3 separate regions of the Homo sapiens genome follow, and regions 2 and 3 are each reported to be linked to region 1. Evidence: microRNA targets listed by miRTarBase, many of them from high-throughput screens and not tested one by one. Region 1 holds a microRNA gene; each other region holds the end of a gene's coding sequence.

Region 1 (4,066 bases):
GTACTCAACAGCTGTAATTTGGCATCCCATGGGATGACATGGGAGGATATACAGGAAACTTTGGAAGGCTGTTGGTTTTGTGACATGATTAACCAAGGCTACTTGGCTGAGATTTCCAGTGTCTAAAGCTACAGTAACTTGGTGGCCACACTGTAACTTATCTCAGCTGGGAACTCATAATAAACAGAACACAATAAGGACCTGAGAATGAAGTTAAGAGAAGAGAATACAGCTGAGTTTCTAAATACTCTTCACCTTGGTAGGATTTTTATGCAGCAAAATAGCAAAGGGTTAGAAGAGTATGTTGCCATTGAGTATGTAGCACTGGTTATGTAGTCACACTGCCTTGTACTGGTTGTCTGGAGCCTGCTGAGGTCCTGCTGGCATACAGCATATTAAAGATGTGGGAGCACTATAATGTATCTGACTGTAGGTCACAACTCAATGAAACAAATGTTTGCTGAGTTCCTACTATATAAGCTGGAGAATATGGAAGTTGGGCATACAAAAATGATTGTTGTATAATAGAAACATTTATTATTTTAACCAATAAACAGTTGTCTTTACAATAATTAGTATATTTTTAAAACTTTTCCTTTTAGAGTTCCTAACTTATGGCTTACTAGAAACACGATCTTGCTCTTTGGGAATATAAATGAGCACATTGTTAGTAAATTTTCATGGAAAATTGTGGTCAAGCACAAGAAATGCTAATGTCCATTAATACTCAAATAGCATTTAAAGGGAAAGTTTATCATTATGAATCTGTCATGTCAAAAAGTTGCGGCTTATATTTTCTCTTTATGTTTCATATCTCAAGAGGCTTGTTGAGGTCCCTTTCATCTAAATTGATCATTTTTCACCATTATTGGGGTGGAATCATGTTCCTATTTGAGAATCTCTTAAAAGATTACATGACATCTATGAAAAACTATGACTTTTTACCAGAAAAATGCATATATTCATGTATACACAATTAATATATGACATATATTTTCTGCAGATTGGTCAGGTTGAGAAATGCTACATTAAATGTTATGAGTAAGAAGGTACAGATTTCAGAAGACACAACCTATGAAATTACAGCTCATTTGGGGAGTAAAAGATGACCTTTCCTCAAATTATGAATTAAAATTTAGTTTTCTATCCAAATTTCTAATAAATTTATACTCTGCTGCAGACGTCTGGCTGCAGTTTGCCCCTGTAATAGAAAACAAATTATAAGGCCAGATTTTGATAAATTTAGCATGAATTTCCATCAGAATTTTAGGACTTTCCTAAGCATGACCATATGGGAAGGTGATCAGAGACGTATCTGCATTACGGCTTTGTTAAAGCTGCGGGTGCTATTGTAATAGACAAGTTACAATCCTAAGACATCTTTTTAAATGTAATTGAGTTCCATTATCCTTCTGTGTTTCTGGGCCCCAGAGCAGTTCAGAAGAGTCTCTGCCTTGAGTTTGCCTTTGGAACGTTTCCAGAGAGGAACAGGTGATACCATAAACATATCCCTGTTGCCATTTGGGGTAAGCAAGTGGCTCTATGTGGCGGCTCCTTCTGGATGTAAATTGATTTTAATGATTTCTTTCTTTCTCCTGGGCAGGATTTATGTGGGCATCATTCATGTGACACCCTGGGAATGGCAGACGTTGGGACCATATGTTCTCCAGAGCGCAGCTGTGCTGTGATTGAAGACGATGGCCTCCACGCAGCCTTCACTGTGGCTCACGAAATCGGTATGCAGCGCCTTTTCTTTTCCCTCACCAAATCAAACACTTGTAACAGCTGCAACAGGAACCAAAATACTTAGCAATTAATTCCAGATTTCTCCTGGTTCAGATGTACCACTGGGAATTAAATTTGTTTATATCTGCACTTTTAAGGTTAACTAATACGAGCGACAGGGAAGGCAAAGTCAGCAACACGGTGGATGTTTTCTTCTGACAGTGTCATTTAAAAGTTCAAGAGAAATTTGCTACTGCTACTGCCTTCTTACTATCTTTTTAAGCATCCGTAAATGACCCCTGGATGAAATTTGTCACAGGCAACTTTGGTATGCAGAGATGTCCTTCTTAGAAGTTACTGGAGACAGTACTGGCTCATCCAGGGCTAATCAGTTTGCACAGAAATTTAACATGTTTTATTTCATTGTCAGTGATAATTGTAGGCTCCTGTCAAAGGTCATCAATGGCTTATGGTAAATATTTCTGTCTTGTTCTTAATAGCAAGGAAAGGAAGCCAAGCCTGACACTCAACAGGGTTTGCTTTAAAATGTCACTTACCTAATTTGTTTGTTGTAAGAAACACATCTAAATCCTACATCTATAAATAGAGGACTGAGTTGATTGCTAAAAAATATTTCCAAAATAAAGAATATGTGCTTCCTAATTATTGACCTAGATTACTAGGTGTATGAGAAATTGGCTTAGTACATTTAGGACTAGATGTTGGAATTAGACACAATTTTTTGTGTCTAACTTTTTTCTGTCTAATTCCAACATCTAGTCCTAAATGAGCCCAATTTTTGCTAAATTACTTTATACCTATGTCACACTGGTCTAATTATTTAAACTCTCTGAGCTCCAGTTTTCATATCTGAAACATAGGGATAATAGTGCCTATTTCAGGGAATTATTTTGGGGAATATATTGGGTAGAGTTTAGATAGTAGATGTTATTTATATCCACATGTACTTATGTTTTGCTTTTTAGCTAAATAGTTCATTTGCTTTTGAAATGTATGTATCAACTCAGCATCACATTTTTGGGAGCAAAGCATGGTTTGATAATTATGGTACCTTTTGCCATCTATAGCAAAAAAGATTTTGATTTAAACAGATTTTGATTTTTAAGGTTAAAATTATAACTTTTAAATGGGAATTAAAACTACTTTTTTACATTCCTAATAGGCAGAGAATATTTTCACAAAGCATCCATTTCTAACTGCTATGTTTTCTTTGGGGAGTTAAATAACTTCTAATCCAAGGTACAGTGTAATTGCATAATTCACAATATTGCCGCAGTAAAACAGAATTCAGTAGTTAAATGTCAGTTCTTAAGTATGGCATTAATGTTCCTGACACGTTTCTTACCTCCTAAGCAGAAAAACACAAATATAAAACCTAAACGTAAATAATTATCCAATAGCATCACTGAGAATAATTCAGTGTTTTATTGATTAGGCGTCTTTGGCTTCAGTAGTCAAAGATCTGAGTGGAGTCCCAGCTCTGTCTCTGGGTTCTCTGTTTTATCTCAGACAAGTGATTTAGATACTTTGAGTCTCCATTTCTTCCCTATAAAGTGGGCTAATGAGGAGGCATGGCTGTCTTCTCAGCTGCACTAGAAGAACTGGTCAGCCTGAAAGCGTCTTTATAACACATGCCATTTAGGCTCCAGGGTAGGGATCATGTCTCTCATTTATGCCTATTAATCCTTACTGATAAAAACACAGCCTAATACAGAACCTTAATCAATATTTATTACGTATCTATGTATGTGCTTGACTGCGTAAGCGGGAGAAAGAAACATGAGACTTGCTCAAGGCAACATTCCGATCTGCACCGGAAACTAAGAGGAATTAGTCCAAATACTCAGGAGGATGTAATTAAATAGAGGAGACTTTTAAAGTACACTGGTAATTAATCACCATCATTCAGAGTGAGAGGAGTCCCATAAGAAAGGTTCTAAGTCCCTGGAAAGGCAGAAGCTGATTCGTCACAGGTCAAGCGGAGAAATTATGGGGAATAAGCAGCAGAGCTGAATGTTGGCGTCATCCATCCACAGGATTATGGGCTCCAAATCTTGATCTTCAAAAGGAAAGATTCCACATTCCTTAAAGGAAGGGCAGTTTCTTTCCTTTCTAGTGATTGGTTTTCACACATTGACTGCATCTGGGAGATTTCCCTGTAAGACAAACACTGTGGCAATAAGTGCAGCTTCTTCAGGGATGCTTTGACCTCAAGTTAACTAGGGAGGATTGAAGAGCCCTGCAGGGTCACCTTTCCCAGCTCTCCTGAATTCCTAAGGCAATCTTGGGTTACAAGGCTGATGCAGCAGTCTGAGAGGCA
Region 2 (4,066 bases), not on the chromosome of region 1:
CTGCCACCACACCCAGCTAATTTTTTTTTTTTTTTTTTGTATTTTTGGTAGAGATGGTGTTTCACCATGTTATCCAGGCTGGTCTTGAACTCCTGACCTCAAGTGATCCACCCACCTCAGCCTCCCAAAGTGCTGGGATTACAGGTGTGAGCCACCGCGCCCGACCACCTACCAACATTTATTAAAAGTCTTTCCTGTCCCAATTGAATAGACTTGATGCTATTCAGTTGACTGTATATGTGTGGGTCCATTTGTAGACTGTACTCTAGTCCACACCACACTCTCTGTATTACTCTAGTGTTAAAGTCTGCCTTCTCTAAATGTGTTTCTTATCACAATGATTTGGTTATTCTAGGTTTTTATGTGTTTATATAAATTTCAGAACCAACTTATCAATTTATAACTATATATGTATATATATAAACTTATATTTACAATATACATACATATACACTCATCTATACTTATGTACATACATATACACATATACATATATTTTATATATATATAGGAATTTTGACAGGGATTACCTAAATCAATATGCAGACAACTGACATTTTAACCATTTTTGCCTTCTAATCCATGAACGTGATATATTTCTTCCTTCATTTGGGCCTTCCTTAAGTCTCTCAAAAATGTTCTATATTCATCAGTACAGAAGCATTCCGTGTTATCTTAGTTCATTTGTGTTGCTATAGAGTAATATCTGAGGCTGGGTAATTTATAAAGAAAAGAGGTTTATACAGCTTGTAGCTGCAGTGAACGCCAAGAATGAAGCACTCAGACAATTCCAGCTGAGCGGGATGCGGCGGCAGCAGCATCTCTGAAAGAGTGCCGCCCCAGAATCCGTCCGCCAAGTGTTTCTCGAAAGGGTTTGTTAAACCAAAATGTCCACCAGATGGCCTTTTGCGGTCGGGTCATGAGACACATATGGCCTGGTAAAAACACTCAGACTACAGTCTCAGGAGGCTGCTTTCCGCGCTCCTTATCACACATTCCGTTCCTTGCCCTGTTTTCAGGGTCAAGGAGTTTCAATCTCATGCACAAACAACACGCACACGGTGCCTCAGTATTTTTCCATGCCTCGACCTCAAATGCCTTGTACATAAGCTTGAATATGTTGCCGTGCACCCCCCACAGTTTATTTGGCTCACAGTTCTGCACCACATAGAAAATGCTTGGCACCAGCCTTTGCTTCTGGTGAGGGTCTCAGGAAGCTTCCACTCATGGTGGAAGGCAAAAGGAAGTCTGCATGTGCAGACAATACGGCAAGAGAGGAAGCACGGGCTGGGGAGGGGAGGTGCCAATGTCTTTTTAACACCCAGCTCTTGGAGAAACTCTCACAGGAAGTAACAGAGTGAGAACTCTCTCATTACCTTGAAGACAGCACCAAGCCATTCATGAGGGATCCAATCCCGGGACCTGAACACCTCCCATTTGGCCCCACCGCCAACACTGGGCATCAAATATCAACAGGAGGCTTGGCAGGGCCAAACAAACCATATCCAAACCATAGCATAGGATTTTTTTTTTTTTTTTTTGACACAGACTCTTGCTCTGTCGCCCAGGCTAGAGTGCAATGGCACAATCTCAGCTCACTGCAACCTCCGCCTCCCGGGTTCAAGCAATTCTCCTGCCTCAGCCTCCCAAGTAGCAAGGACTACAGGCATACGCCACCTCGCCTGGCTAATTTTTGTATTTTTAGTAGACATGGGGTTTCACCATGTTGGCCAGGCTGGTCTTGAACCCCTGACCTGAAGTGATTTGCCCTCCTCAGCCTCCCAAAGTGTTGGGATGACAGGCGTGAGCCACCACGCCCAGCTCGGATATGATTTTTTACTTATTTATTTATTTATTTATTTATTTTTTTTGAGACGGAGTCTCGCTCTGTCTCCCAGGCTGGAGTGCAGTGGCACGATCTCAGCTCACTGCAAGCTCCACCACCCGGGTTCACGCCATTCTCCTGCCTCAGCCTCCCGAGTAGCTGGGACTACAGGCACCCGCCACCACGCCCGGCTAATTTTTGTATTTTTAGTAGAGACAGGGTTTCACCATGTTAGCCAGGATGGTCTCGATCTCCTGACCTCGTGATCTGCCCACCTCGGCCTCCCAAAGTGCTGGAATTACAGGCGTGAGACACTGTGCCCGGCCATGATTTTTAAAAAATTGTTCCTTGGTACTTTACGGTTTTTTGATGCTGCCGTAAATGGGCAAGAGTCTAGATTTAGGGAAGTTTTAGTGCTTCCTCCAGTCCTTTGATTTCTTCCTATCAGGGCTACTGCATAAAGTGATTGTTGTGAGATGTCCCTTTCCTCGTTCGGGTGCTGCATGTAGGTAAATTTTTTTGGATCATGTTGTTTAATTTGCCAGATGATCCTGTGCCCCTTTGGAAACGTTTCTCATTCCCTGGGTTTGGCTTTAGAGGAGGGAGATCATGAGCTGCTGCTTCACTCTCTCCCTCAGCTCAACCCAGAAGTCCAATCCTTGAACTCCATTTTCAAAGACAGAGACAGAAGAAGGCCCAGGAGGAGGGCGTTCTAGGAGGAGGGTCCCCAGTGTGCAAGGACTGAGGTATGAACCAACAGGGCATGTTGCAAATGATTTGGAAAAGACCAGAGGGACCAGTGGGTTAAGTGGTGAAGATGGAGGAGTGGACTGAAGTGGGAGAGTGATGTCACGAAGAGGATGTGATGGGAGGTTCAGGATCCAGGAGCCATGGATGGGCTGTGAGCAGTGCGGAGAGAGCTCAGTGTGTCCTAAAGATTCCCACTGGACTGTGCACAATACGTAGACTGCAGAGAGTAAGGCGGCCTAGCAGTCACAGGGTGGGCAGATGAGGCTGAAGAGGTGGGCAGGATCCAGATGCTACCTAGACCTGATTTGCAGGCTGAGGTTATTTCCTGGAAAGTTGCAGAATCGCTATTTTGCAGGCAAGTGACACAGACATATAAGTACTAGTTGCCACCAGAATCAGGAGAGGTTCCCAGCAGGACCTTTGTGTTCAAAGCACAGCGATCCATCAGTGCTCGGCATACACCTGTGCCAGGAGCTCTAACGGGATGTGACTCCTGGAATGGTGACCACAACCTTGCAAGTAGGGCTTCTCATTCCTGTTTTACAGAGCAGGAAACCAAGGTACAGAGAGGTAGGAATTTGTCTGTCTTTTAGTTAAAAAAATAAAAGGGAGGGCACAGTGTGGATTCAGGTTTGAGATACTTTGACTCTAAAGCCTGTGTGCTTTTCACTCTGCACATAATTCATAGTGTTATCATAGCTCATCACGTTGAGGGCTGTTAATTCTACAAGAATCAGCCTCTGACTTCTCCCTTGCCTGGAGGGGCTGTGATCCCTCAATCAGGGTGAGTCTCTGCAGTTTCTCATCTGTGGATCTTGATCTCCGAGTACTCGGTGTCAGTGGCCTCCTGTCCCCGCGAGTCCCAAGGCTTCACCATCTGGAAGCTGAGGGATGCATACTGGAGCTCTCCTTCCCCCACTGAGGAGCGGGCAGAAGCTGGGGGAGGCTGGTCTGGGGGACTGTCTTCTGCCCAAGGTTCAGTCAGGGGCCCCTGAGACATGGGAGAGAGAAGTGAGTCAGAGCAGACAGTGAGGATGGGGCGCGGTGGCTCACATCTGTAATCCCAGCTCTTCAGGAGGCTGAGGTAGGCGGATCACCTGAGGTCAGGAGTTTGAGACCAGCCTGGCCAACATGGTGAAACCCTGTCTCTACTAAAAATACAAAATTAGCCAGGTGTGGTGGTGTGCACCTTTAATCCCAGCTACTCAGGAGGCTGAGGCAGGAGAATCGCTTGAACCTAGGAGGCAGAGGTTGCAGTAAGCCAAGATTGTGCCACTGCACTACATCCTGGGTGACAGAGCGAGACTCCATCTCAAAAAACAAAAACAAACAAACGAAAAAATGCACTTGAGGCAACAGCCTCACTCACTTCACCCTTGTTCTTGCCCTAGTGGAGAGGTAGGTGCTTAAAAGGTCAGAATGTGGCCGGTCACAGTGGCTCACGCCTGTAATCCCAGCACTTCGGGAAGCCAAGGTGGGCAGATCACAAGG
Region 3 (4,066 bases), not on the chromosome of region 1:
GGAGGGAAACCCAGAGCAGCTTCTAGAAGGTGGTATGGTCTCATAGGGGACTGACTGTCCAGGAGATTAGCCACGGAATGGTCCCTCAAGGCAAGCCTTTGTAGGGTTACAGGGAGTCAGAAAAAGAGTAAACAACCATATCCAAGCCAGTTTCTTGTGAGGCCTGGACTACCTGGGGAGGCTCAGGTGACTTTGGTACAGAGCCACAAGAGCCATGCAGCCGCCGAAAACCAGAGGTGACAGCTCCTCCAACTTAGACCCTTCTCATGCCTGAGTGTTCTAGATTCATGGTGTTCCATCTGGTAGCCAGCAACTCCAAGTTGACATTCTGTCAGAATCTAGAACAAATGAGAACTAAAATTCTAACTTAATTTCTTATCTACATAAGACAGTCTCTGTAGTTGCCTCTCATGTGCCCAGTAAGTGCCCAAGTAATTTGTCAGTTTGGGAAATGAAGCGAAGTCTTCAACAGCCATTCACACTCTCCAGGTGGGTAATACACAAGTGTGCTGCACACGTGCATTTTGAACAGTTTTCTGACTACCGTTGTTCTCTGGCTTTGCCTTCAGAAAACCCGCTATGAAATGTATGTCAGCATTCTCAAGGAAGGAGGCAAAGAGCTACTGAGTAACGATGAAAGCGAGGCTGCAGGACTGAAGAAGTCGCACTCGAGTCCTTCGCTGAACCCGGATACTTCTCCAATCACTGCCAAAGTCAAGCGTAACGTGTCAGAGAGGAAGGATCACCGACCTGAAACACCAAGCATTAAGCAAAAAGTTACTTAGAGTCCATCTGCGGCCAGGAAGTGCTGGTCATGGAGCAAAATAGGGTTTTTCAAGATCTTTCTGGTAATCCGTGAATATATTTAAAAAAAAAAAGTCTGTGACAAAACGGTGCATTAGTAATTTTTTCTATTGTATATTTTTGTTAGTTTCTGTACAGATTGTCTTTGCTCTTGATTTCTTTTGCTTTGATGATTTTTGCAACTTGATAGCTAATGCACCTTTTCTGTGAGGAGGAGGGGATCGTGATTTCAGAATGAATTATGTATCCCTTCTCTTTTGGTTTTCTCTTGTTTGCAGTCTGCTCAGTTGTTTTATGTATTCTCATATCAACTGTTAAACTTTTTTTTAAGGTTAAAGAATTTAATCCATTGTGAAACACTTAACTGGACAAACTGTAGTTTTAGTAAATTCTAGCTGGAGTTAATATACGCCTTTATATGTGAAATCTTGCCCAGTCACAGAGGTAGAATTGAGCACTCACAGATGCTCCAGTAAGAATCACAGTGCTGGGAATCTAGTTGCTCCAATATGAGGCAGCTTCATGTGCAGCTTAGCACTTGTTGTTGAGATCGGACCCTGCTGGAAGCAGGGAAAAGAAGCGTGAAGATCGTAGGATTGAGAACTTAGGGAAGCACATTAGCTTGCTTGAAGTGCTGATTCCATTTCAGCCAAGCAAGGGAAAGAGGAAGTGGAGTCATTTTGCCTTTGAAGGCTGAGGAAAGATTGATACCCAGTTAATTTTGTTTGCTAAAGGATGGGGGCAATAATCGGCCCTTGAGGAGCTGCAGCAGTAGGCATGTGCTCAGTCTGCAGGAATTGTTACCTCACTCCCACAGGGTCTAGACTAGAAATCCATCATCTCTATCGTTGATATCCTTCCATCCAGGAATAGATTTTTCTTACTCTACATATGTGTGTGTGCGTGCGTGTGTGTGCGTGTGTGGGCATGGGGTTGTGTCCTGGTTGTGATATTGAGGTCTTCCTTCCTAACAAATTAATACTAAAATGAAACAGCTTTTCTTGTGTCCTTAAGACAAAATAAGGAAGGAAAACGTAGCTGCAGTTGTCCACGATGGATATTGGTTCTTTAAAATATATCTGAAAGTAGTAGTCAGAATGAATTATGGTTGGAAAACTGAGGAATCTTCTGGTTGCAGGTGCAAAGTGACTTTGTTTATTCTTGTCTCAGTCTCCTTGATAGCCACTTCACTCTGCTACTACTCAACTTTCTCCTAAAAATACTTCATCTATTTTCAGTCCTTTCTTTCTGTCTACTCAAAATGGTTCTATTAACTTTGCAGTCATGAGCTTGTTCCAGTTACAGTCCCTTTGAAGTTCAGGGTGATAAACAGAATATTCTTCTGTAGAGGAAGAGAAAGGAGTGAAAGTTTAGCCCACTGAGACCTAGAGCTTTGTGATTTCCTAACCTTGAAACTCTGTAATCCCTAAAGTTAAAATCTCCGCAAGTGGCACAACTTCAGAACTAATAGTATCACTTTGATTTTTCTTTTTCCTCCCTTAGAAAGTTTCTCTAGTTCTATAGTTTATTTGTTGAAGGTACTATGACCAAAGAATCAGCTGCTCTACAGGAATAGCATGGTTCCAGTGAATTAGAGAAAACCTGCTGTAAAGCCATGGTAGTGTCTAAGTGGTATGTTATTATGATGTACTAGCATTTATTTACAGAATTATTTATTAACGTTTACTTCCTTCCCCTCTGTAAATGTCCATGACTATTGCCCAGAGAAGGCTTACCCCTCTCTAGGGTTGCAGTTGCTTTCTTTGTAATAAGTATTTTGCCACACCTGTAAAAAAAAAAACCTCACTTTTAACTCTCTGCCTTGTTTGGGTAAAGGCAGTAACTAAGTTTATGTTTCAGAACTGCAAAACAAACAGGATAGTTACCAATATGGCCCATGTATCAGATTGATTTTTGTAGCCTCTCACTGAATCCAACATATCCACAAGCAAGTTATCTGTCTTTCTACCTGATAATCTAAATTATCAGGATATTTGTTTTCTGCCTAAATGTTTATACTAAGCCGAGGGGAGAGAGGTACCTAGACCATGTCATCTACAAGCTTCAGTAACTAAAGAAAAAGGAACTTCCCTGAGTGGCTTGAATGTGTTTGCCCACAGTCTATATCTATGTATATAGAATGTCTGTATGTATTTTACTTATTTAATATACATTGAATGGTACCTTGCTACAGTATTTCTGACATTTAGAGTAGTGTTGAAATACTCGGCTAGCATCAGCACCACTATAGCACTGTCCGTGTCATATGAGTCACTAATATTAACTCCAGGGACTTCTGGATAGGCTAATAGATCATTGGATACGAAGGGCTCTTTTGAAGCTTCAGTATACCATGTTTGCATAGTTTATCTTTAAAAACAACTTTAAAGGTTCTTTTGTGAGCCAGGATCTCAGACTGCCGTAGCATGATGCTGTCCATCTTTAGCGCATGGGCTGAGAACACCTCTTCCCTGAGGCTTCTGAAGGTTGCTGTCTGTCATGAGTGCATGAAGGAGGCCAAGAGTTTATGCTATGGGAGGAAACAGTCACTGATTTGCCTAGATTCTGAGAGTCTGGCCCATAGCCAACCACATTTTCCTTTGGGATAATTTATTTCCTGTGGCATCTAGCCAGAAGAAATTGAGGATGTTTCCTTTCACAGCTGCTCCAAGCCTGTTGCCCAATTCACGGTACAAGGGAGCACCCCTTCCCTTTCCTCTGAAGGTACGCCACCCACCTCCGTCGCCCACCTCAGCGCCCAGGAGCCTTGGGACTTCCTTCCATATGATAAATCATTCTTCTTCACGTCAATACACTTCATATTAATTTCTAGTACAGAAAATCTTGACAGCTATCAGAATGCCTTGGTCATAGTGTTGTTGCAAAATTGACCATACAGGTGGCCCATGTATAAAATCTGAATTTTAGGGGTTTGTCCCCACCTCGCATGCTGGCTTTTACAGGGAGGTGTCTGGGATTCCTCATTAGCAATCAAAACTTAATTACTGGGATGCAGAGTCCTTACTTTATCGCCAGCCCGTAGGCATTTCTGAAGTGCACTTTTTTGAAACATCATTTTGCTAACTCTCAGCAGTGTCTAATTAAACTGAGCAATACTTTTGTGAATTTTAATTAATCTCAGCAAAACCATGATGGGAGAGAGTCCTCTGATGGAAATGTAGTCCCTGGATTATGTGTAACCTTTTTATTCCTCTTAGATGCAGAGGATAGAAAGCATTTTTTGGTGCAGTGGTCTTGTGGC

Evidence for each region. The annotated mature microRNA hsa-miR-4759 reads UAGGACUAGAUGUUGGAAUUA and lies in region 1 at 2,490-2,510, opposite strand. An mRNA with a match to its seed (bases 2 to 7 or 8) in the 3' UTR can be bound and repressed. Matches are read on the target gene's strand: a 7mer-m8 pairs with bases 2 to 8, a 7mer-A1 pairs with bases 2 to 7 and ends in A, and an 8mer does both.
Region 2: the mRNA of SIGLEC9 is a reported target of hsa-miR-4759. The part of its 3' UTR that is shown has no 7-base or 8-base seed match.
Region 3: the mRNA of PSD3 is a reported target of hsa-miR-4759. The part of its 3' UTR that is shown has no 7-base or 8-base seed match.

The regions. Positions count from the first base shown.
Region 1 is chr21:26,952,409-26,956,474 of GRCh38, reverse strand. MIR4759 (microRNA 4759) reads right to left here and starts at 2,514; the gene lies at 2,432-2,514. ADAMTS5 (ADAM metallopeptidase with thrombospondin type 1 motif 5) reads left to right here. Exons shown (of 8, transcript NM_007038.5): 2 at 1,604-1,736. RefSeq lists an enhancer at 1,041-2,467.
Region 2 is chr19:51,129,391-51,133,456 of GRCh38, reverse strand. SIGLEC9 (sialic acid binding Ig like lectin 9) reads right to left here. Exons shown (of 7, transcript NM_014441.3): 7 at 3,147-3,566. The coding sequence ends at 3,378. Among named protein-coding and RNA genes, the nearest start is that of SIGLEC9, 6.5 kb to the right of the region's middle.
Region 3 is chr8:18,532,462-18,536,527 of GRCh38, reverse strand. It overlaps PSD3 (pleckstrin and Sec7 domain containing 3), which reads left to right. Exons shown (of 16, transcript NM_015310.4): 16 at 570-4,066. The coding sequence ends at 785. Among named protein-coding and RNA genes, the nearest start is that of NAT2, 140 kb to the right of the region's middle.